Linked DNA regions of Homo sapiens: regions 1 and 2 are each linked to region 3. The links come from fine-mapping of genetic effects on gene expression. A gene starts in region 3. Each other region holds a variant in brackets. All regions are shown on one strand. Distances are from middle to middle.

The links. PIP is the estimated chance that this variant, and not a neighbour inherited with it, causes the effect.
Region 1: its variant is the best candidate, but not a certain one, in a credible set for the expression of DENND6A in whole blood (INTERVAL, PIP 0.84).
Region 2: its variant is the best candidate, but not a certain one, in a credible set for the expression of DENND6A in whole blood (TOPMed, PIP 0.56).

Annotation. Positions count from the first base shown.
Region 1 is chr3:57,722,585-57,730,764 of GRCh38, forward strand. No RefSeq gene overlaps it. Among named protein-coding and RNA genes, the nearest start is that of SLMAP, 30 kb to the right of the region's middle. The variant C/T (reference allele first, on the strand shown) is at 4,711.
Region 2 is chr3:57,943,236-57,951,415 of GRCh38, forward strand. No RefSeq gene overlaps it. Among named protein-coding and RNA genes, the nearest start is that of FLNB, 61 kb to the right of the region's middle. The variant C/T (reference allele first, on the strand shown) is at 4,419.
Region 3 is chr3:57,688,434-57,696,613 of GRCh38, forward strand. It overlaps DENND6A (DENN domain containing 6A), which reads right to left and starts at 4,644. Exons shown (of 20, transcript NM_152678.3): 1 at 4,349-4,644. The coding sequence starts at 4,585. It overlaps DENND6A-DT (DENND6A divergent transcript), which reads left to right and starts at 4,772. Exons shown (of 2, transcript NR_135550.1): 1 at 4,772-4,909; 2 at 5,383-8,180. RefSeq lists an enhancer at 3,972-4,472 and silencers at 4,194-4,433, 4,544-4,643.

The DNA of each region.
Region 1 (8,180 bases), 34 kb after region 3:
GGAGTGCAGTCATGACTCATGCAGCCTCGACCTCCTGGGCTTAAGTGATCCTCCTGCCTCAGCCTCCCAAGTAGCTGGAACCATAGCCATGTGCCATCACACCCATCTAAATTAATTTTTTTTTTGTAGAGATGGGGGTCTCCCTATGTTGCCCAGGGTGGTCTCAAATTCCTGGGCTCAAGCAATCCTCCTGCCTCGGCCTCCCAAAGTGCTGGGATTACAGGCACAAGCCCCCATGCCCAGCTTCCATCTTTACTTTGAGTTTCCTAAATCAAATTAAATTTGGCATTGGCTTCATCTGCCTGTCTCAGGTAATGACCAATATTCTCGTGTCCCTCCCTCCTTGAAGTATACATAAATCCTGGAAATTATGGACTCCATGAAAATTGAATGAAGAAGCATGGCCTCTGGTTTATCATTTTATGGCTTGGAGATATTCACTGGCCTCATTTTCTGTTTGAATATAAGCAGCTCTTTTGAGGGCATCTACTTCCTTTAGATCACTGGGACTTTAACTGCAGGTTCTATGGCCACTTTTCTTAGAGTTGAGGGCCCAGGCACCCATACACAACTTCAGTGGTTTTGTACCCACCAGGACAGAACTGTATTGGATCAAGACTAGTATCTCTGGACTGGCGCAGTGGCTCACACCTGTAATCCCAGCACTTTGGGAGGCAGAGGCGGGCAGATCACCTGAGGTCAGGAGTTTGAGACCAGCCTCAACATGGAGAAACCTCGTCTCTACTAAAAACACAAAATTAGCCGGGCATAGTGGCACATGCCTGTAATCCCAGCTACTCAGGAGGCTGAGGCAGGAGAATTGCTTGCACCTGGGAGGTGGAGGTTGCGGTGAGCCGAGATCGCGCCATTGCACTCCAGCCTGGGCAACAAAAGCAAAACTCTGTCTCAAAAAAAAAAAAAAAAAAAGACTAATATCTCCATTAGTCATAGACGTATATGCAATCTCATATTAGCTTCTTTTATATGGGTAAGATTTTTCTTTCAAGTTAAATTGTTTTGTAATTTATGCTTTTGTATGCCTTACTGTGCTGAACATGGTAAATCCAATAAATACTTGTCGATAGGCACAAAGAAGAGAATGCACAGTTTCTGCTTAAGGGAATTTACAACTGGCCAAGGAAATACAACCAAGAAGGGGAGGCTCAGATATGACCACAAATTAAGGAATTGTAAGATAACTAAAATGAGAATTTAAAAGGAAAGAAGTATTATAGAGGATCTAAAAAGACAAGATTGGCCGGGCGCAGTGGCTCAAACCTGTAATCCCAGAACTTTGGGAGGCCAAGGCGGGCGGATCACGAGGTCAAGAGATTGAGACCATCCTGGCCAACATGGTGAAACCCTGCCTCTAACTAAAAAAACACAAAAAAATTAGCTTGGCATGGTGGCACGCGCCTGTAGTCCCAGCTACTTGGGAGACTGAGGCAGGAGAACTGCTTGAACCTGGGAGGTGGAGGTTGCAGTGAGTCGAGACGGCGCCACTGCACTCCAGCCTGGAGACAGAGCAAGACTTCGTCTCAAAAAAAAAAAAAAGACAAGTTTATATCTTGCTGGGGTTTCAGAAAGGATACATGGAGAGGGACACATTATAGAATGCTTTTGAAGCCTTGAGCCTCTTTGAGAGAGAAAAGAAGATGTGTTTTTTACTTTCTAATTTTTTGAGATAAGTTTTTTTAAGACAAAGTCTCACTCTGTCGCCCAGGCTGGAGTGCAGTGGCGCCATCTCAGCTCACTGAAACCTCTGCCTCCCAGGTTCAAGCAATTCTCTTGCCTTAGCCTCCAGAGTAGCTGGGATTACAGGCGCCCCCCCAAGTCATGCCTGGCTAACGTTTTGTATTTTTAGTAGAGATGGTATTTGCCATGTTGGCTGGTCTCGAACTCCTGACCTCAGGTGATCTGTCCACCTCAGCCTCCCAAAGTGCTGGGATCACAGGCGTGAGCCACTGAACCCAGCTGTACTTTTTAATTTAAAACAACACTCTTGGGGGTGGATGCAGAAATCTGGACGCATTCTATTCTGTCTCCCTTTTGATCCCTCTTCATTAAGATTAGAACTTCATTCAAATTTAATTTGCAAGATATGTCATTTTATTACTTTAACATTTAATATCTATTAATGTGGCTTCAAACAGTGTAATTTAATTTCTTAACTAATAGCTACATGAGAAGCTTTCAGCCATTCTCCTCGACTTTTGTGTCAGCAGTGGAAGTCCTTGATGTAGTCACTAGTAATAAAAAGGCTGGGCTGGGAGCGGTAGCTCACGGCTGTAATCCCAGCACTTTGGGAGGCTGAGGGGGTGCGAATCACCTGAGGACAAGAGTTCAAGATCAGCCTGACCAACATGGTGAAACCCCGTCTCTACTAAATATACAAAAAAGTTAGCTGTGCGTGGTGGCACACGCCCGTAATCCCAGATACTCAGGAGGCTGAGGCAGGAGAATAGACTGAACTTGGGAGGCGGAGGTTGCAGTGAGCTGAGATTGTGCCATTGCACTCCAAACTGGGCAACAAGAGCAAAACTCTGTCTCAAAAAAAAAAAAAAAAAGGCTGACTTTTAGCCAGGCATGGTGGCAGGCACCTGTAGTCCCAGCTACTTGGGAGGCTGAGGCAGGAGAATCACTTGAACCTGGGAGGCTGAGGTTGCAGTGAGCCAAGATCGTGCCATTGCAACTGCAGCTTGAGCAACAAGAGGGAAACTCCATCTCAAAAAAAAAAAAAAATGCTGACCAGTAAACTGCAGGCACCAACCACCTGTTTCAGCACTTGTCACTGCCCCATCCTCACCTCCCAGGCCCAGAAGAATGGTATAATAAGGTCAAATTTAGCTATATAATATCACAAACTAACAAATAATACATCTGCCATTCCCCCTCCCCCTTCCCAGGTACCTTTCCAATAGGATTGACGACAAAACTGGCTGGCCTGATACAAGATACAGATGAAGGAGAACATGATGATGTAAAAAAAAGCATTAAACACAAGAAAAACATTATCTTTCATTTCATAATAAAATACTAAAAAGCAGAGAGATAAATGTTTTATTGTTAGATAGGAATTTGTATGAATATTAGTGACTGATAACTAACAAAAAATGAAATTCTAGAATCCTGTTTGCATATATTTGAAAAAGAGATGCGAGAACCACATTTGTGTGGGATCTTTCACAAGAAGCACTAACAATACGGTCATAGTTAAATTACTGTATTTCAAACAGCAGAATGCAGGTCAGGATGAGGGAGCAGGGTTAGAGCTGGAAAGAAAATTCAGTACTGAGGACAGGTAGGTAATAAGGTCAGGGACTGCATTTGTTTCTGCAGCCAGAATTTTTCTGATGATTCTTTGATGGCTGATATATATCAGATGTTAGTTTAAAAAGTGGTTTGCAGGGCCCTTCAAAAGAGTCATATTCAGCAGATGTAAGGTGGGTCTAGGAATCCGCACTCTTTTAATACACCCTCTAAGTTATTCGAATGCAAGTGATCTAGAGATTGTACCTTGAGAAACATCTAGAGCAATTGCTGCTTCAATTTTTCTATACATTTATTTATTTGATTTGAGATGGAGTTTCTCTCTTGTTGCCCAAAGTGGAGTGCAATGGCACGATCTTGGCTCACTGCAACCTCCTCCTCCCGGGTTCAAGAGATTCTCCTGCCTCAGCCTCCCTAGGAGCTGGGATTACAGGCGAGCACCACCCCATCCAGCTAATTTTGTGTTGTTAGTAGAGATGGGGTTTCACTATGTTAGTCAGGCTGGTCTCAAACTCCTGACCTCAGGTGATCCACCCACCTTGGCCTCCTAAAGTGCTGGGATTACAGGTATGAGCCACCATGCTCAGCCCAAATTTTCTATCCAAAAAGTAGAGTGTAGAAAACTTTCTAGTTGGAGAGAGTGGCTAAGGAACTTGTTCAGAAAGTTTATTTAGAATATTAGAGGTGCTAAGGGGCTCTTGAGGGAGACTGGAGGAGCCATGGGTTAAGAGATGCTTAAGAGGAGTGCTTCTTAAACCTCAAGTGCACACACATCACCAGGGATCTTGTTAAATGCATTTGCTAATTCAGTGGGACTGAGTGGGTCCTGAGAATTATGTATTTTTAACAAGCTCCCAAGTGATGATAATGCAGCTGGTCCTGGCCAGGCATGATGGCTCACACCTGTAATCCCAGCACTTTGGGAGGCTGAGGCAGGTGGATCACCTGAGGTTAGGAGTTCATGACCAGCCTGACCAATATGGTGAAACCCCATACCTACTAAAAATACAAAAATTAGCTGGGTGTGGTGGTGTGTGCCTGTAATCTCAGCTACTTGGGAGGCTGAGACAGGAGAATTGCTTGAATCTGGGAGGCGGAGGTTGCAGTGAGCCAAGATCATGCCACTGCACAGCCAAAATGACTAAATGACAGAGTGAGACTCCAACTCAAAAAAAAAAAAAGGTAATGCAGCTGATCCCAGGACCACACTTTAAATAGCAAGACTTTATACTGAAAATGGGGTATATAATGGAGAGAGATATGTTTAGACATTGTATATGAAATGGAAAACCAAAGCATAAAACACCATCAAGTTTTGAAATAAACTTAATCCAAAAGTTAAGCAAACGTGAATCTTGAAAGAGGAAATAACTGAATTAGAACCCCAGGCAGTGCAGATTGTCTAAAAGTGAATCACAAGGCTCTGACTCTCAGGTTTTC[C/T]CAGGCTCCACCCGCCCCCACGGAGCATGTTTGTTGCTTACATGAAAAGAAGGGTTATAGATAAGGTCATAGGCAAGGTCCCATCAGCTTCTATTCAAAATAGTCCATCAAAGTTTCTTAAAGAAGCTGGGTGTGGTGACGCATGTCTTTAGTCCCAGCTACTCGGGAGGCTGAGGTGGGAGAATCACTTGAGGCCAGGAAGTCAACACTGCAGTGTGCCATGATGGCGCCACTGTACTCCAGCCTGGGTGACGAGAGTGAGGCCTTGTCTCAAAAAACAAACAAACAAACAAACAAAAACAAACAAACCCAAAACAAAAACAAACATTTCTTAAACTAATTGTTTTCTCTGATTAACAAATCCACTCCCTACAAGCTAGAAAAAGCAACTTTGCAACACAGGATAATCAATTATCAAACCAAGATCTGGCTGGCGCAGTGGCTCACGCCTGTAATCCCAACACTTTGGGAGGCCGAGGCCGGCGGATCACTTGAGGTCAGGAGTTCGGGACCAGCCTGGCCAACATGGTGAAACCCTGTCTCTACTAAAAATACAAAAATTAGTTGGGTGTGGTGGCGGGCACCTGTAATCCCACCTACTCGGGAGGCTGAGGCAGGAGAATTGCTTAAGCCTGAGAGGTGGAGGCTGCAGTATGCCAAGATTGCGCCACTGCATTCCAGCCTGGGTGACAGAATAAGACTCCATCTTAAACAAACAAAAAACCCAATATCTTTTGTTTTGAGATGGAGTCTCGCTCTGTCGCCCAGGCTAGAGTGCAGTGGCACAAAACCCAATATCTTATCATAGCTTTCTCTGCTGAAAATCCCAGATGGTCCCCCTACTGTTAGGGACAAAAACCTAAATTTCTGAGCTTTTAATTCAATTTCCTCCACATTCTTCTCTGTCACTCTATTTCCAGCCCTATCTCTTGCCAATAACCAGTTTTCTCACACATTCTTAATGCAGTTCACACCCACCTACAGGGTACTTCCTACTTCTAGGCTTCTGCTCCAGTCAGTCTCTTTGCTGGAATGCCCTTTTAAAAAATATATTCTTCAAAGCCTAGCTTAAACATAATAATAATCATATGCAATAGTAATCTGTATTTACATAGTCCTTACTATTTGCTAGGCACTACATTATCTCAATGAATCCTCACCCCAACTCTGAAAGACAGGGATTATCATTTTCCATTCATTCATTCAGGAAATATTTATTGAGCCCCTAATGCGTGCCAGGCACTGCTTATGGCACAAGTCTCTTCCTTCAACAGGCTTACATTCCAGCTTTAAGAGACAAATAATAAGGCCGGGTACGGTGGCTCACACCTGTAATCCCAGCACTTTGGGAGGCTGGAGCAGGTGGATCACTTGAGGTCAGGAGTTCGAGACCAGCCTGGCCAACATGGTGAAGGCCAACATGGTGAAACCCCGTCTCTACTAAAAATACAAAAATTAACCGGGTCTGGTGGTGCATGCCTGTAATCCCAGCTACTCGGGAGGCTGAGACATGAGAATAGCTTGAACCTGAGAGGCGGAGGTTGCAGTAAACGGAGATAGCACCACTGCACTCCTGCCTGGGTGACAGAGCAAGACTCTGTCTCAAAAAAAAAAAAAAAAAAAAAAGGAAATAATAAAAAAAATAAATAAACATACAGTGTGCCAATGAAAAGTGCTGTGGAGAAAAATGAAGCAGGGTATGGGGATACTGATAAAGGGAATGGTTTGAGCTAATGGTTGGAGACAACTGACAACCATTAGCCTTGAAAATAGCTAGTGGCCAAGAAAACAGCAAGGGCAAGGAGCATGCTTGACAGGTTTGGCAAGGGTAGACGACTGAAGAGGAGGATGGTTGGGGCTGAGGTGAGAGAAGTGGGGCTAATTCACATAGAAGGGCTTTCTAGGCTAGTCTAAGAATTTTGCTTTTTTCTCCAAGTTAGATGTAAAGCCATCATGCATTTTAAAAAGTCACGGGCTAGTGCCTTGAAAAGTGATCACAAGGAGACCTGTTAGGAGGCTACTGCAAAAGCCCAGGTAAGACATGATGGACCAAGCTGCAAACAGTGGATGTGGGGAGAAAAGGTCAGATTCTGGATCTCTTTGAAGTTTCAACAGGCAGAATGTGATGACTTGCAGCTGAGAGAATGAGAGACATTCTTTACTTAGGCCAAGCAACTAAGTTTTTTGGCCTCTACAGCTGGCAGGATAGAGTTGCTATTTGTTGCTATCTTATAAAGAATTTGAGGTTTAAGGAGGTTACATAACACCCCCAAAGTCAACTGTCTAGTTCTCTGTTACAGGTTTATCTGGAAAGATTGAGCAGCAGTTCCCCTTCTCCCCATCTCCTAAGAAACTAGCCTGGGCTAGAGTTTTACCTTTCCCTTGACCTAAAGAATTAATAGGCCTTTGTTTTCCAAGAACTTTTTGCTAACGTAAAGAAAGGATGAATCGCACTGAGTCTGGGGAAGGGTTGTGGGATTTTTTTTTTTTTTTTTTTTGAGATGGAGTCTTACTCTGTCACCCAGGCTGGGGTGCAGTGGCGCAATCACGACTAACTGCAACTTCCGCCTCCCAGGTTCAAGCAATTCTCCTGCTCCAGGTTCCCGAGTCGCTGGGATTAGAGGCGCACACCACCATGCCCAGCTAATTTTTTGTATCTTTAGTAGAGATGGGGTTTCACCATATTGGCCAGGCTGGTCTCAAACTCCTGACCTCGTGATCCGAATGCCTCGGCCTCCCAAAGTGCTGGGATTACAGGCGTGAGCCACTGCACCCGGCCGGGATTTTGTTTGTTTGTTTGTTTGTTTTGAGACAGGGTCTCACTCTGTCACTCAAGCTGGCATGCAGCAGCGCAAACTCGGCTCACTACAACCTCCGCCCTACCAGGTTCAAGCCATTCTCGTGCCTCAGCCTCCAAAGTAGTTGGGATTACAGGTGTGCACCACCACGCCTGGCTAATTTTTTGTATTTTTAGTAGAGACCGGGTTTTGCCATGTTGGCCAGGCTGGTCTCAAACTCCTGACCTCAGGTGATCCACCCGCCTTGACTTCCCAAAATGCTGGGATTACAGGCATGAGCCACCACTCCCAGCCTGGGATTTTTAGGATTTCCAAATGCCTTCTTCTCCTGAAGTTTGCAACAGAAGACAGGACTCAAGCAGGGATGGCTGCAGGATGCCTGGGAGACAGGTCACTAAGCACTGAGACCCTGGAAGGAGCAGTAAGAGTGCTGGTGACAGCTTTCTGGTCAGATGAAGGTAAATCAACAGCATCACCCCGTTTCAGTGACCCAGGACCACTCGACCACCCAAACTCTAGAGGTCTTGTATACTTCACTGCAGTACAGAAAGAAATCCCAGAAATAATTCTTATCCATCTTCAGAGTGTGGGCTCTAAGCCGTATTTTATTTGAATAAATAAATTAAAAGAAGAAAAGAAATGGGACAGGGATGTTCACCATGTCTATTTATA
Region 2 (8,180 bases), 250 kb after region 3:
GAATGGCTCCCATGTGGCCGGGCACAGTGGCTCACACCTGTAATCTTACACTTTGGGAGGCTGAGGCAGGAGGATGGCTTGAGCCCAGAAGTTCTAGATCAGCCTGGGCAACATAATGAGACCCTGTCTGTACAAAAAAATTTAAAATGAGCTGGGTGTGGTGGCACATGCCTGTAGTCCCAGCTACTTGGACGGCTGAGGCAGGAGAATCACTTGAGCCCGGGAGGTTGAGGCTGCAGTGAGCCATGGTCACACTACTGCACTCCAGCCTGGGCAACAGGAGACCCTGTCTCAAAAAAAAAGTTTGAACAACCAAGTTATATCGATGGTTTGCATTGACTCGGAATTAAATGACTTCTCCAGAAAGCAGCCTGAGAAACTGGAAGGGGATGAGACATTGGAGGCGGGCCTCGAAGGACTGGAAAGATTTGGGCTTATTGGGGATATAACAGAAAGGCATTGCAAGGGGAAGGTGGGAACATGTCAGGTGTGAATGAGTGGTTTCATGCTGGCTGGAGCTAGGCCTGGTGGAAGAGCAGCATTTGGAAAGCACATCAGGAAGAGGACATTTCAGGCAAAAGAAATGGTTGAGGCAAGAGGGAGCTCGCTGTGTGTGTGCCTGCATTGTACAAAAACTGCCCCCAGTGCAGGGGAGGATTCACACTTTTGGTTGTGATGAGCCAGCTGGCTGGCTTAAGCAGAAAGAGAACTTATCATGAGGCTACAGTGCAGGGTATTGCTGTATCTGCCTCTCTGTCTTCATCCCAGTCTACATCAGAAATTCCTCTCCCTGCTCTCAGCCCCTGGAGGATTTCTTCTGTGACCCTTCTCTTACCCTGAGCATTTTCTACCCCATTTGGGGCATTTTCTACCCCAAATGACCCAGTTGCCTGGTGTCATTTCTCTCTCCTATTAAACTATAAACCCCTAACAGCAGGGCTGTGCCTTACTTGCCTGTGCCACCTTCCAGCCCCCCACTGCTCTGGAAAGTGTGGCCTGCAGGCTTTCAGATTTTCTCCATGTTGACCCTGCCTTGGCCTTCCCATGGGGAGGTACTCAAGTTTCCTTTTCTGTGTTATCTCCTACAGTCCCTTGCAAAGATTCAGATCTCTGGCTCCAGGCATTTATTGCATTTTTCTGATCAAAGCTCTCTTCCGAGCAGGATATTTTCCATACCGGAAGCTTAAGAGAGTCCACAGTGAACCATGGGAAGAATGGGGTGATCGTAATTTTCTCAAGTTCTTGCATTGATTTAACACAAGAAAAGGACTTGGATCCTTTGCTCAGCGTCTCCTCTGAGCACTTTAGTTAATTCGGCATACATATACTTTTTTTTTTTTTTGAAACTTTTTTTTTTGGAAACTTTTTACTTTGATATGATTTTAAATTTGCAGAAGAGTTGCAAGAATAGCACAAGGAACTCACATTTGCCCTTCACCCAGATTTTCCAGTTTACACCTCGCCTCATTTGCTTTCTCTCTGTGTGTGTATACACACACACACACACACACACACACAGGTGCGTATTTTTTTTCTGAACTGTTTGAGAATGTCATTCATTTTGTTCCTTTGCCCCTACACACTTTAGTGTGTATTTCCGTGAAAGAAGGATATTCTCTTTACTTTGTACCAGGAGTGCTGGTTTCTTGCCCTAATATAGTGTTTACTGGCAACTGGAGGGTTGGGGGGACAAGGATCTTATGGATCTGAAGGAATTAGTCAAGAAGTTGTCACAGCATCTCTTTCCTCCTAACTAGATCCTGCAGGGACAGAAACCCACTCTGAGAAGTATGAGGCTGGGTCATCTAAGATAAGTCTGCCTGTTCTTTCTGGATGAAAATGTGATTGTTGTCACAGGTCCAAAGCCAAACACATTTTGGGAAAGGTGGCATCAATTAACCCAGCCAGCCTCAGACCTTGAGACATTTTTACGGTCTGTGCAACACAAGAATCGAGAAGGAAAAGACGTCGTACCACTGCACTTGCAGAGAAGCTTTGTTTTCCATCTCAGCCCTTGCTGCCTGTGCTAACAGTCGCAATCCTAACATCCTACCTGGACATCATCTTCCTGCCATCATCATCTGAGCCTGGGGTCCCCCCAACCTTCCTGCTCTTAACCAAGTTCCGAGAGATTCTGGGATTCAGGGGCTCCCAAAACAGCTGTGAGCAACCTTCCTCAATTGAGTCCCCACTCTTTTGGTTATGCCTAGTGGATAGATGGACAAGTGGAACAACTTTTTTTTCCTAATATAAAATTAATACATGCTTCTTGGGGAAAAAACATAAGTATAGAAAAATATGAAGAAGGGATACAGATCACCTGTAAACTTACTATAGTTCTGGTATCCACCCTTTCAGATTCCATCAGGAATGAACATTGTGTGATGGCTAAGAGCCCATACTCGGGTCATCAGGACTAGACACAGTTCTGGCTGTGCCATTACTAACTGAAGTAAGATAACTAACTCCTTTGAGATCCAGTTTCCTCTTCAATAAAACAAGATAAGGCTGGGCACAGTGGCTCACACCTGTAATCCCAGCACTCTGGGAGGCCGAGGCAGGCGGATCACTTGGGGTCAGGAGTTTGAGACCAGCCTGGCCAACATGGTGAAATTCTATCTCTACCAAAAAATACAAAAATTTGCCAGGCAGCTGAGTGCGGTGGCTCACGCCTGTAATCCCAGCACTTTGGGAGGCTAAGGTAGGTGGATCACCTGAAGTCAGGAGTTCAAGACCAGCCTGGCCAACATGGTGAAATCTCGTCTTTACTAAAAATACAAAAATTAGCCGGACATGGTGCATGCCTATAATCCCAGCTACTCGAGAGGCTGAGGCAGGAGAATCACTTGAACCCAGGAGGCGGAGCTTGCAGTGTATCGAGATCGCGCCACTGCACTCCAGCCTGGGTGACAGAGCAAGACTCTGGCTCAAAAAAATTTAAAAAGTAAAAAGAAAAAAAAAGCCAGGCGTGGTGGCAGGCACCTGTCATCCCAGCTACTCAGAAGGCTGAGGCAGGAGAATCGCTTGAACCCAGGAAGCAGAGGTTACAGTGAGCCAAGATTGCACCACTCCACTCCAGCCTAGGCAACAGAGTGAGACTCTGTGTTAAAAAATAAAAAATAGGCTGAGTGTGGTGGCTCATGCCTGTAATCCCAGGACTTTGGGAGGCCGAGGCGGGCGTATCATGAAGTCAGGAGATCGAGACCATCCTGGCTAACATGGTGAAACCCCATCTCTACTAAAAATGCAAAAATTAGCCAGGCGTGGTGGTGGGTGCCTATATTCCCAGCCACCCTGGAGGCTGAGGCAGGAGAATCACTTGAACCCAGGAGGCAGAGGTTGCAGTGATCCGAGATTGCGCCATTGCACTCCAGCCTGGGCAACAGAGTAAGACTCCCTCTAAAATAAATAAATAAATAAATAAATAAATATGAGATAATAATAGTACCTGGGCTGGGTGCGTTGGCTCATGCCTGTAATATCAGCACTTTGGCAGGCTGAGGTGGGTGGATCACGAGGTCAAGAGTTCAAGACCAGGCTGACCAACATGGTGAAACGCCGTCTCTAATAAAAATACAAAAATTAGCCGGGCGTGGTGGCAGGAGCCTGTAATCCAGCTACTCAGGAGGCTGAGACAGGAAAATCGCTTGAACCCGGGAGGTGGAGGTTGCAGTGAGCTGAGATTATGCCATCGCACTCCAACCTAAGCAACAGAGCGAGACTCCATCTAAAAATAATAATAATAATAGTACCTGCTTAAATAAGCTAATGCATGTAAAGGGTTTAGTCAATGCTTACATGAAGCAATCTCAAACAAATATTAGTTCTAGGTGATGAAAAAGGACTCCCGCCATACCACTGTATAGCAGCCTGCTGTTTTCTCTCAACAGTAATTGATTCATTCAATAATATTTTTTGAGCACCCGTTGCATGCCAAACATAGTGCTAAGTCCTAACACTTAAACAAACAAAATCCTTGCCCTTATGGAACTTACATTTCTAGTGGAGAAAGAGACAGATAACATGCTTGTATATGTTATAAAATATGTCACAGGGCCGGGCACAGTGGCTCACACGTGTAATCCCAGCACTTTGGAAGGCCGAGGTGGGTGGATCACTTGAGGTCAAGAGTTCAAGACCAGCCTGGACAACATGGCAAAACCCCATCTCTGCTAAAAATACAAAAATTAGCCAGGCGTGGTGCATGCCTGTAGTCCCAGCTACTCGGGAGGCTGAGTCAGGAAAATCACTTGAACCTGGGAGGCAGAGGTTGCAGTGAGCCAAGACTGCACCACAGTACTCCAGCCTGGGTGACAGAGCAAGACTCCATCTCAAAATAAATTAATTAATTAAATATGTCATAGGTTAATAAGTGCTCTGGTGGGGGGAGATTCAGCATGTGTGGTGGATAGGGACCA[C/T]CATCAGCGGGTTGCTATTTTATATAAAGTAGTCAAAGAAGACCTCTTTGAAAAGATGGCGTTTGAGAAGTCTGAAGGAAATGAGGGAACTATAAAATAAATATCTGGGGGAAGAACATATCTGGCAGTGGGAACAGCATGTGCAAGGGCCCCGAGACCACAGCGTGCTTGGCATATTTGAGGATGGTCAAGGAGGCCCTTGTGGCCAGCAAAGAGAGGAAGAAAGAGAACCGGAGGAGCAGAGGTCAGGGAGGTAGTGGGGACCCAATTGTGTAGGACCTTGTAGGTCATTCTGAGGATTGTAGCTATTCCTCTGAGTGAGATGGGGACCTAGGGGAGGGATGGAGGAGAGGAATGATACAATTTGACCCTCATTCGATCTCAGTACTTGTATATTGTGGTTAAAGTGGAAAGCCGCACAGTTCCTTGGACTCTATTAACCAGCATTCCCCAGCCCTGTGGGCCCCTCCCACCAGGAGTCCACAGCCTGCCTGACACGATGCAGCAACTCCCCGTAACCCCTTGCTGCCCACCACCATACCGTTTTTCTAGGTGGGAATGACATCCAGGCATACCCAGATGCTTCCAGGCTAGACCGTATTGTGCCCAGCCTTACTGTTCGCATCTCACTGGCCATGACGGCTAATAGCCACCATCGATTAAGGCCTTGTCATAAGCCAGGCCCCTCACCCCCAGAGCTCCTTTAATCCTCACAGCCACCCTGCTAGGCAGCCACTGTCATTCTCCCTTTTGCAGCTGCTACAACGATTGATTAACTTGTGCAAGGTCCTGAAGCTGGCAGGCAGGGAGGCCAGGACTTCTACCCATCCGTCAGACTCCTAAGGATGGGGACAGTGATGAACAAAGCACAGCATCCACAGTGCCTGGCACACCACAGTCACCCAGACAGCCAGATAGAAGGCTGCATGAATCGGCGCTCTTCATCCCTCCCTAAGCTCTCCCTCTGTTGAGAAAATGTCTGAGAAAGCATTCCGCACACTATAAAGCATTACACAAATATGAGCATGGCTGTGAAGATGATTAGGAGTCCGAAACCTCAGGTTCGGGTTGGGCTCCTGATTTTTCTGATGGCCACCTCCTCCTAGTCATTGGCACGTTAACCTCAAACACCTGAGCGCCACCAAACCTCAGCATATCCCTAGCTTCTCCTTTGCTTTGCCTGAAACAAAGCAAGTCTTTTATAAGCAAGGGAGAGGGCCTGTGGTGGCCTTGCTTTTGCGAACGTGCTTTCACCTCCTTCCAGTTCATTGCTTTCATACAAAATTCCAGACGCACAGCGCAGGCAGACAGAAGCCTCATTCATAGCCAGAGGTCCCTCAGGCTGGGGTTTCCACGCCTCCTTCCCCTTCCCCCTCATCTCAGTCTCCTGCTGAAGTTGCGATCCACATGAAGCCACAGAGGTAGACTCAGGGCAAAGAAGAGTTTTTAATGTTGCTGATGGGGGTGAGGAGAGGGTGGCCCTCGGAAGGCCACCACATGGCATGGTGGAAAGAGCCCTGGATTTGCTTGACAATAGACTACTGCATTCCAGATTGGTTCCACCGATTGGTAGTCAAATGAACTTGGACAAGTCATTGACCCTGTCTTCTTGGAAAGACGTGGATCTCAGAATCCTTCACAACGCTTTGCTCCTGATAGCTAGTACCTGTTCAGCAGAGTCGGCACAAGCTCACACAGCCCTTGACCTCCTGTGGGCCAAGTGAACGCCTTCTTCCTGGTTTGGTTAAGTTGGCATAGAGCTGAGCATGGTGCTGCTGGTGGTTCTACTAAATTGTATGATGGTTTAAAAAAAAAAAAAAAAAACTGTCCTTGAGGCTGGGTGTGGTAGCTTACGCCTGTAATCCCAGCACTTTGTGAGGCCAAGGTGGGAGGCCAGGAGTTGGAGACCAGCCTGGGCAAGATAGTGAAACCTCTACAAAAAATAAAAAACTTAGCCAGGCATGGTGGTGCACGCCTATAGTCCCAGCTTCTCTGGAGGCTGAGAGGCAAGAGGATCACTTAAGCCCGGGAATCTCAGGCTGCAGTGAGCAGTGATCGAACCACTGCACCCCAGCCTGGGTGACAGAGTGAGCCCATCTCAAAAACAAGAAACAAAACCAGTTCTTGAGCAAGACATACCTTTCTAATTTCCCAGTACTTTCCAGCTTTCCAAACCCTTCAGGCCCCACACCACCCTGATTTTTGTCACCTGCAAATAATAAAACTACAAACTGCACTGCACGTACACTTTTGTAAAGGCTTGAATCATTGACTTCCTCAGCCCCACACCTTCTGGTCAGCACAGGGCACTGCACTGCCACTCCAGACAGGCCTGGGCAGTGAGGAAAGGTGCCAGCCACGTGGGCTGGGGGTGGGGAAAGTGACTAATCATGAAATCCTAATTTATAATGTGTTGCTATCCTTAGTTGAGCATTAATTTGGCTCTCAGAAATAGGAGAAGGTGTGGGTGACTGGTCTGAGGAGAGTTTCTGGGCAATTAGAACAAAAACAGAAGCATGCTCTTGCACACAAAGTGGACTTTCTCTAGGGTGGTGGTATTCTCTGGAGAGCTGAACTCAGGGAGTCTTTATTATGTATACTTCTGTGTGTCTAAACTTTATACGGTGCTGGGTGCCGTGGCTCACGCCTGTAATCCCCACTTTGGGAGGCTGAGGCAGGAGGATCAGTTGAGCTCAGGAGTTTAAGATCTGCCTGGACAACACAGGCCTCGTCTCTACAAAAAAAAAATTTTTTTTAATTAACTGGGCATGGTGATGTGCACCTGTGGCCCCAGCTACTCAGGAGGCTGAGGCGAGAGGATTGCTTGAGCTGGGGAAGTTGAGATTTCAGTGACCTGTGATCAGGCCACTACACTCCAGCCTGGGCAACAGAGGGAGACCTTGTCTCAAAAATAAAATAATAATAATAATTAGAAAAACTTTACACAATGAACATATATCCCTTTTAGACCACATTTCCTGAGTCTAAGATGCCATTGATTGAAAGACAATTATTTTCTGTACTCCCCTGAAAGCAAACTGCTACAATGTGTCATCTATTAGACACATCTGCATTTTTGAGATGTTGAAATGTGAAAAAAATGTGCGTCTTCGAATTGACAGAATGAAGTAACTTTTTAAATTAAAAGATATTTTCAGCTGAGCATAGTGGCTCACGCCTGTAATCCCAGCACTTTGGGAGGCTGAGGCGGGTGGATCACCTGAGGTCAGGAATTCGAGACCAGCCTGGCCAACATGGTGAAACTTCGTCTCTACTAAAAATACAAAAATTAGCTGGTTGTGGTGGTGGGCACCTGTAATCCCAGCTACTCAGGAGGCTGAGGCAGGAGAATCGCTTGAACCTGGAGGTGGAGATTGTATTGTGGTGAACAGAGTGAGACAGAGGAAAAAAAAAAAAGATATTTTCCACTTTTGGAAAAAAATTATTTAAATTGCTTTTGCATTCCACTCTCCTGCTCAGAATGATTTCCTCAAAAAAGCCAAGGGAGTCACATTTGAAGATGAGGAAATTTTTTTTTAATGTTTATGTGCCAGTTTCTTGCTAGACCCTGTGCTTTCTCATCCCTGACCCCATGGAGGCCTCATGAGAATGATAAGCCCAAATAAAATTACCACTTATGGAAAAGGAGTAATTTTGCAAGGAAGGAAACTGAAGGTCAGATTGGTGTTCCTGATCATGCAGTTCAGTAAGTGAAGGAGAGGAGGTTCAAACTCAGCTGCTGAGCCCCCGCTCCCCTCTTCT
Region 3 (8,180 bases):
GTGACTGCTACTGCTAGCGAAACCTTGTCTCCTAACCACAAGTGAACAAAATGGGACACCTGTCCCATGCTGAGCCAATCAGATACTCCAATATTAAGCTTCAGCCTCATTCCAGAAAAAGAGTTTGGCTAAAATTAGTACCATGGAAACCCAAAGTCAAGCAGAGTAACGGGGGAGCAGAAACTGAGGCCACTGCAGCACAAACCAGCTTCAGCATGGAGAAAAGAACAGACATGCAAAGACCAAAGACAAAAAAAAACACACAGCTCCAGAGACAAAGGCCTGGGGCTTTCCAAATCCCACAGGTTCATCCTTGCTTCCCACACACTTGGATTCCAAAAGACTGCCTGGAATCCTTACAATCACTGTCCCTTTACTTAAGTTTATTTGAGGTTTCTGTTCCTAACAATCAAGTTAATCCTTGACAGATACAAAATTATATAAAGAAAAAAAGTATTAACAAAAATGCCGAATATTAATAGCAGTTGCCTCTTAGTAGAATTAAGAGTGATATTTTCTAGTGTTTATAATTTTTCTTTTTTTTTGAGACAAAGTCTTGCTGTGTCGCCAGGCTGGAGTGCAGTGGCCCGATCTTACTGCAACCTCCACCTCCCAGGTTCAAGCGATTCTCCTGCCTCACCCTCCCGAGTAGCTGGGACTACAGGTGTATGCCACTGCGCCCAGCTGATTTTTGTATTTTTAGTAGAGACGGGGTTTCACCGTGTTGGCCAGGGTGGTCTCGATCTCTTGACCTCGTGATCTGCCCGCCTCGGCCTCCCAAAGTGCTGGAATTACAGGCATGAGCCGCCATGCCCGGCCTAGTGTTTATGATTTCTTTACTTGCCAAGTTTTCAGCAATGAGTATGTTATTATTCACTCAGAAAAAAAAAAAAAACTTGAATAAATAAGGTAATTCTGTATTCGGATAATTAAGGCTTTACTAAATAATTGGTAATTTCAAAGCTAAAAGTGAGGTACAGTATATCAAACCCAGGAGGTTTCAAACCTTGTTCCAGAGGACACTTTGATTCTGTGGTAATGCCTCCAGAGCCACTTCAGGGGAAAAGAAGCTCAGCACACCCCCTGCAGTCAACACCTTGTTCAGTTTCTTCCTAGCTCAAAGACCTCCTTAACCCCCTTCACTTAGGACAGGGCCTTAAAAGACATTTTATGCAAGGTGAACCACTCCCCCTTCTACTCAGGGCTTTAGCCAATTGTATCAGAGTAGGAACCTGCCCCAAACCAGGCCAGATTATCTTCCTCTGGCTTTGGAAGTGAGTTAAAGATTCACTCTTTTTCACTGAAGTGGCTAAAAACGTTAGCTTCTCACCTTAAAGATCAGAGAAGGGCTGGGCATGGTGGCTCAACACCTATAATCCCAGCACTTTGGAAGACAGAGGCAGCAGGACAGTTTGAGGCTACAAGTTTGAGACCAGCCTGGGCAACATAGCAAGACCCTGTCCCCACAAAAAAAATTAAAAATAGCCGGGTGTAGTGGTGCATGTCTGTATTCATAGATACTCAGGAGGATCCCTCGAGTTTAGGAGTTCGAGGTTGTAGTGAGTTATGATCATGCCACTGCACTCCAATCTGAGGCAGACCATGTCTCTAAGGAAAAAAAAAAAAAAAAGTCAGGTGCGGTGGCTCACGCCTGTAATCCCAGCACTTTGGGAGGCTGAGGCAGGTGTATCACTTGAGGTCAGGAGTTCAAGACCAGCCTGGCCAACATGGTGAAACCCTGTCTCTACTAAAAAAAACAAAAAAACAAAAAAAACAAAATTAGCTGGGCAGGCCAGGCGCGGTGGCTCATGCCTGTAATCCCAGCACTTTGGGAGGCTGAGGTGGGCAGATCACACTGTCAGGAGATCGAGACCATCCTGGCTAACACGGTGAAACCCCGTCTCTATTAAAAATACAAAAAATTAGCCGGGCGTGGTGCGGGTGCCTGTAGTCCCAGCAACTTGGGAGGCTGAGGCAGGAGAATGGCGTGAACCTGGGAGGCGGAGCTTGCAGGGAGGCGGAGCTTGCAGGGAGACGAGATTGCCCCACTGCACTCCAGCCTGGGCAACAGAGCAAGACTCTCTCTCTCAAAAAACAAAAATTAGCTGGGCATGGTGACATGCACCTGTAGTCCCAGCTACTTGGCAGGCTGAGGCAGGAGAATCACTTGAACCTGGGAGGTGGAGGTTGCAGTGAGCCGAAATTACACCACTGCACTCCAGCCTGGCTGACAAAGTTAGACTCTGTCTTTAAAAAAAAAAAAAAAAATCAGAGAAGGGGAAGAAGGCAGTTTGCAGGGAACATGAAATATAAACAAGATCTGCACACAAAAAAAGAGCAAAACCAAGAGGTTTCCCTGGTTCTGAACTCTAGCCATTTTCTGAAGCCCTACTAGGTTTATGTCTTAAATAGCTGGAAACCACATATATGGAACCACATACATGATTTCATCTTACTCAGCCTTTTCCTAGTGGAAAATTCACAATGTTCATATTTTTAAAAGATCCAGGAAGCAAAAGGTTAAGAACTCCTGACCTAGAAAAAACTCTATACAGTGGCATACACTATGGAAAATGAAATTCAAAATAAGTCCTTTAATAATTCACATTTTTGCAGCATCTCAAATATATTTTCTGTTTATTTGGTCAAAAAACATATTCACGTTATAAAGAATGTCCCAAATAATGAGAATCCAAAAGAATCTCCTTTAGCTATTTAAAAACACAATCAACTACAACAACCCATTCTTATGCTTTCTGGTTAAATTGTATCTTGCTGTACATATAACTTCAGGTTAACATGGCAAGGTGAATAATAAATGGCTTATAAATCTCTTACTCAAAATCTTTGGGAACTGTTTTTCTTACTTTAATAAGATAAAGAATTGCTCACATATTCACCTATTCTATCAAAAGTATTTATAGAATGCCACTAGGTGCCAGGCACTGCATTTGGCCTTATCAGCTACTATGATTAATTCTTGGTTCTCCTCTAAATTATTGCCTCAATCTACAAATACAGATTAGAGCACATCCTATTTGTATGCTCCACAACTAACATAATGCCTGGTTCTTAGTGGAAACTTAATGTCGCTGAACTGTGTTATAATAAAACATCCAGAAGGCAGGCCGAATACGAAAGCAGTAGCTTCGCATTAAGAAAACTACCCCTAGCCAATTTTCTTAGTCAACCAGGCCACTACAGTATTAATGAAATCGAAATCTGTCACCAATACCAAAAAAAAAAAAAAAAAAAAAAAACCAAAACCAAAACGTCTAAACAAACGCCCTTCTGATAACAATTTCCTTGGACACATGAAAGCAAGCAATTCCTTATGCTAAAAAGACCTTCAACAACGTCAAGAATAGATGTTTCTAAAGCCTTTCGGTAAGGGGCCATACATAAGAATGGAAAAGTTGACTGATTGACAAGCAAATGATGTTCCCTATATTCATCTTGACAGTAGTTTCACACCAACTGTTCCAGAGGCAACATAAAAAAAAATAACAGAAATGAGGCCGGGCACGGTGGCTCACGCATGTAATCCCACCACTTTGGAAGGCCTAGGCGGGCAGACCACCTGAGTCGGGAGTTCGAGACCAGCCTTACCAAAATGGAGAAACCCCGTCTCTATTAAAAATACAAAATTAGCCGGGCATGGTCGCATGCCTGTAACCCCAGCTACTCGGGAGGCTGAGGCAGGAGAATTGCCTGAATCCGGGAGGCAGAGGTTGCGGTGAGCCAAGATCGCGCCATTGCACTCCAGCCTGAGCAACAAGAGCAAAAACTCCGTCTCAAAAAAAAAAAAAAAAAAAAACAGAAATGAGGCACAAAAGGAGGAAAGGGAGAAAATGCGTGCTGAGATAAGCATTTCGACTCAGGCTGAGGGAAACGCTCAAACAGTTACTGCAAATGACTAAAACAATCTGAGCCTTAAAACTTGGTTGTGCAAGTTCGGCTACTAGAGTTCATCATCTGTTATGGGCATTGTTCTTGAAAAAGTACCAAACAAACATCCTGCCTGCGGGCTTCTCCGGGTGGGTGCTACTAACCCTTTTAGTTAATTCTGTGACTCTGCGTTTAAAAGAAATAAAGAAAGAACAGGATGAACATCAACAAGTATTTAGGAGGGGCCTAGAGAGAACTTTTCACCCCTAGCCGCAGCCCAAGATCCTCCCACGGGAAGTGCCGTAGGACCGCAGCCCGAAAGAGCGCGGGAGGGGAGACTGGCCACGCCCGGATGCGCCGCGGACAGGGTCCTGGCCGGTCAGCCCGCGGGCCGCTGGCTTTGCTGCAGCCGCCCCGGCGCAGGGGAGGAGCGCCGAGAAAGGGCGGGGCCGGGCCTCACCTCCACGGCCTGGCCCAGCTCCAGGTCGAAGCCCACCACACACACGCAGTGCAGCCAGGCGGAGAAGCTGTCCCAGCGCAGCAGGCCCCGGCCACGGCCATCGTCCTCTTCATCGTCCTCTGGCGCGCCTCCCGCCGCCACAAGGGCCGGCGCCTCGCGGCCCTCGGCCCCTGCCACCGCTTCGTCCAACGGCCTTCGAGAGCCGGGCCCCAAGCCCGCAGGGCCCCTCAAAGCCATCGGCCGCCCCCTGACCGTTCGCGCCGCCTCCACAGCGGACCGCGCCGCAGAGCGCGCTTGCCTCCGCGCAGGCGCAGACGCTGCTGTCGCAGCCGCTGGGGACCCACTCAGTCCGGGCGGGGCTGCGGGTCACGTGACCCTGGGAGCGGACGTGGGGACGTCACGCTGCCGCTTGTCTCGGATTGTGAAGCCGGTCCTGGCTTCCTTGTCTAAAAGCTCTTTGGGACTGAAATGGCTGTTTATGAATCCTTGTCAACCTCGTTCGCAGTCAACGACCAGGGAATAAATTATTCGTGGAATGACACAGTTCATAATTATTATAAGGTATTATTAAATTATGAAAGCGTAGGCCGGGCGCGGTGGTTCACACCTGTAATCACAGCATTTTGGGAGGCCGATGCGGGCGGATCATCAGGTCAGGAGTTCGAGACCAGCCTGACCAACATGGTGAAACCCCGTCTCTACTAAAAATACGAAAAAATTAGCCAGGCGTGGTGGAGCGCGCCTGTGATCCCAGCTACTCAGGAGGCTGAGGCAGGAGAATCGCTTGAACCCAGGAGGTTACAGTTAGCTGAGATTGCGCCACTGTATTCTGTCTACCCTGGGCGACAGAGCGAGATTCCGTCTCAAAAAAATAAAAATAAAATATATGAACGCATAATGGTGACGGTGGCTAACATTGAACGCTTACTTTGTGCCAGTTGATATGCCAAGTACAAGTGCGAATACTTACAAATATTACCTTATTGAATCTTCACATAATCGCAAATAAGTAGACTATTTATTTCTTTTTACAGATAAGGAAATGGAGGTCCTGGAGGTTACATGACTAGCCCAACAAGTATGACAACTCCGATATCGGCTTGCGGTTCACTCATTCAGTTTGCTGATTCAGAGATCTGTGCATTCACTCACCTGTTCCTTCTCCAGCAAGGCCTCCCCACCCTACCACCTCCTCCTTTCTTAGTTTGGCTGTCTGTGACTCACTCAACACACATCCCCAGACCTTTCTGGAACTCCAGGTTGGGCAGATTGGCCTCCACAGCAACCTGTGGATCTCTGAACACTGGGGCAAGGGCCTGGTCTCAAGCAGCTTCGTATTCTGAGATCAGTTTTTACTGAGTATTGGACCAGCCAGGATACTAACTAGTATTTATTCAGCACCTACTATGTTGAGTATAAATAGCATAGTAAAAGTAGGAAACACACAATAATACCTCAACAGAAAAATGAGTAAACCAGCGAGGTGTCACGCCTGTAGTCCCAGGTTCTTGGGAAGCTGAGGCCGGCTAAGTTCAAGGAGGATCGCTTGAGCAGGAGTTCCAGGCTGCAGCGCGCTATGATCGCGCCTGCGAACAGCCATTGCACTCCAGCCTGGGCAACAGAGCGCGACTGTGTCTCTAAAAAACAACGCAAAACAAAAAACACGGCAGAACTTAAGCATTTTGCTGCACTGCCCAGTGAAATCCATTCCATTTGACAAATACTGCCCTCTTAACATTCTTAGAATTTTTTTTTGGAGCAAGTGTTAGCGTCCCTGTTTTCAAGGAGGTGGTCAAGTATGCACAGACATCAGTAGTGACGTTTGCTGGAGACTTCCTTTAGACAAAAATGAACTTAGGGACAGCACTTAAGTTAGAGGCCAAGTCTTTGGCCAAAGTAGCCTGCCATCCTACTCCAGAGAACTGCTGTGGTTAAAAGAGGAAAAACTGTATTCTGCGATCAAGTAAGGCTCTAAACCCAGTATTAGGAAAGAACAGTAGCCTTTTGTATTAGAAAGAACACTGGCGTGGAAGTCAAAAGTTCTGGATTCTAGTGCCAGCTAGAATCTACCACGATCGTGGTAGGCAAGCTGCTCCAAAACCCAGTTTCTGGTAAATGAGAGTGATGATTACTAACTCACCTCACTGACTGTTGGGAAAAGCTAAGCTATCCTAATGTACACATTTTACCAGATGCTACTTCATTATTAATTATTAATGATCTCAAAACACCAGTTGTGGCCAAGCACAGTGGGTCACACCTGTAATCCCAGCACGTTGGGAGGCTGAGGCGGTAGAATCACGTGAGTCCAGGAGTTTGAGACCAGCCTGGGCAACATAGGGAGGCCCCGTCTCTTAAAAAAAAATTAAAAATTAGCTGGGCATGGTGGCACACACCTATAATTCCAGCTACTTGAGAGGCTGAGATAGGAGAATCACTGGAACCCAGAAGGTCAAGGCTGCAATGAGCCATCACTGTGCTACTCTACTCCAGCCTGGGCAACACAGCAAGACCCTGTGTCAAAAACCAGCACCAAAAAAGAACATAAGTTGTTCCACAGGGCTGGTTCTTCGACACATAGACACAAACTGCGATTCTGTGAAGTGTTGCTTTATAATATTGGGTTAAGGAGAAGGTCAAGGCTGCAGTGAGCCATCACTGTGCCACTCTACTCCAGCCTGGGCAACACAGCAAGACCCTGTGTCAAAAACCAGCACCAAAAAAGAACATAAGTTGTTCCACAGGGCTGGTTCTTCGACGCATAGACACAAACTGCGATTCTGTGAAGTGTTGCTTTATAATATTGGGTTAAGGATGATCTTGTCAAAATACAGTACCCTGAAAACAACATATTAGGAGAGCCAGAAGTTTCCAAAGAAAGAAAGCACACCAAAGCTCTAGAGAATTTTGAAAGTAAAAAACTTGTTTGGGGAGAAAAAAAACAAAAACAGAAAAAAGCATTACTTAAATCTTTATACACAGAAACAGAATAACCACTAGGGTAAACAAAGCAGCTATGGCTTTATTTCCCTCTACCTTCGTAACTTTGACATTCTGCCTTACAGTCTATTTTCACACAGTTTCTGTTGTTAATGGGAGCTGAGGAACAAGGTACTGACACCTTCTTATGGTTCATCAAAAGAACCTTTGACTCTGAAAGGATCTTGGATAGGATCATCTCTCCAAACTTCCTATTCATGGATCTTCTGACATTCAGTTAGCCAGCCTCTTTTCTAACACTCTCTATTAAAGTTAAGTCACTAGCCTGTGATCCCAGCACTTTGGGAGGCCAAGGCCGGTGGATCACCTGAGGTCAGGAGTTCCAGACCAGCCTGGCCATCATGGTGAAATCCTGTCTCTAGTGAAAATACAAAAATTAGCCAGGTGTGGTGGTGCACACCTGTAATCCCAGCTACTTGGGAGGCTGAGGTGGGAGGATCCTCTGATCTGGGGAGGCAGAGGTGACAGTGAGCTGAGATCACACCACTGCACTCCAGCCTGTGCGACAGAGGGAGACTCCGTCTCAATGAATAAATAAATAAATAGCCGGGCGTGGTGGCTCACGCCTGTAATCTCAGCACTTTGGGAGGCTGAGGCAGGTGGATCACTTGAGGTCAGGAGCTTGAAACCAGCCTGGCCAACGTGGTGAGACCCTGTCTCTACTAAAAATACAAAAAATTAGCCAGGTGTGTTGGTGTGCTCCCGTAATGCCAGCTACTTGGGAGGCTAAAGTGGGAGAATCACTTAAACCCGGGAGGTGAAGGATGCAGTGAGCCAAGATAGCACCACTGCACTTTAGCCTGGGCGACAAGAGCAAGACTCCATCTCAAAA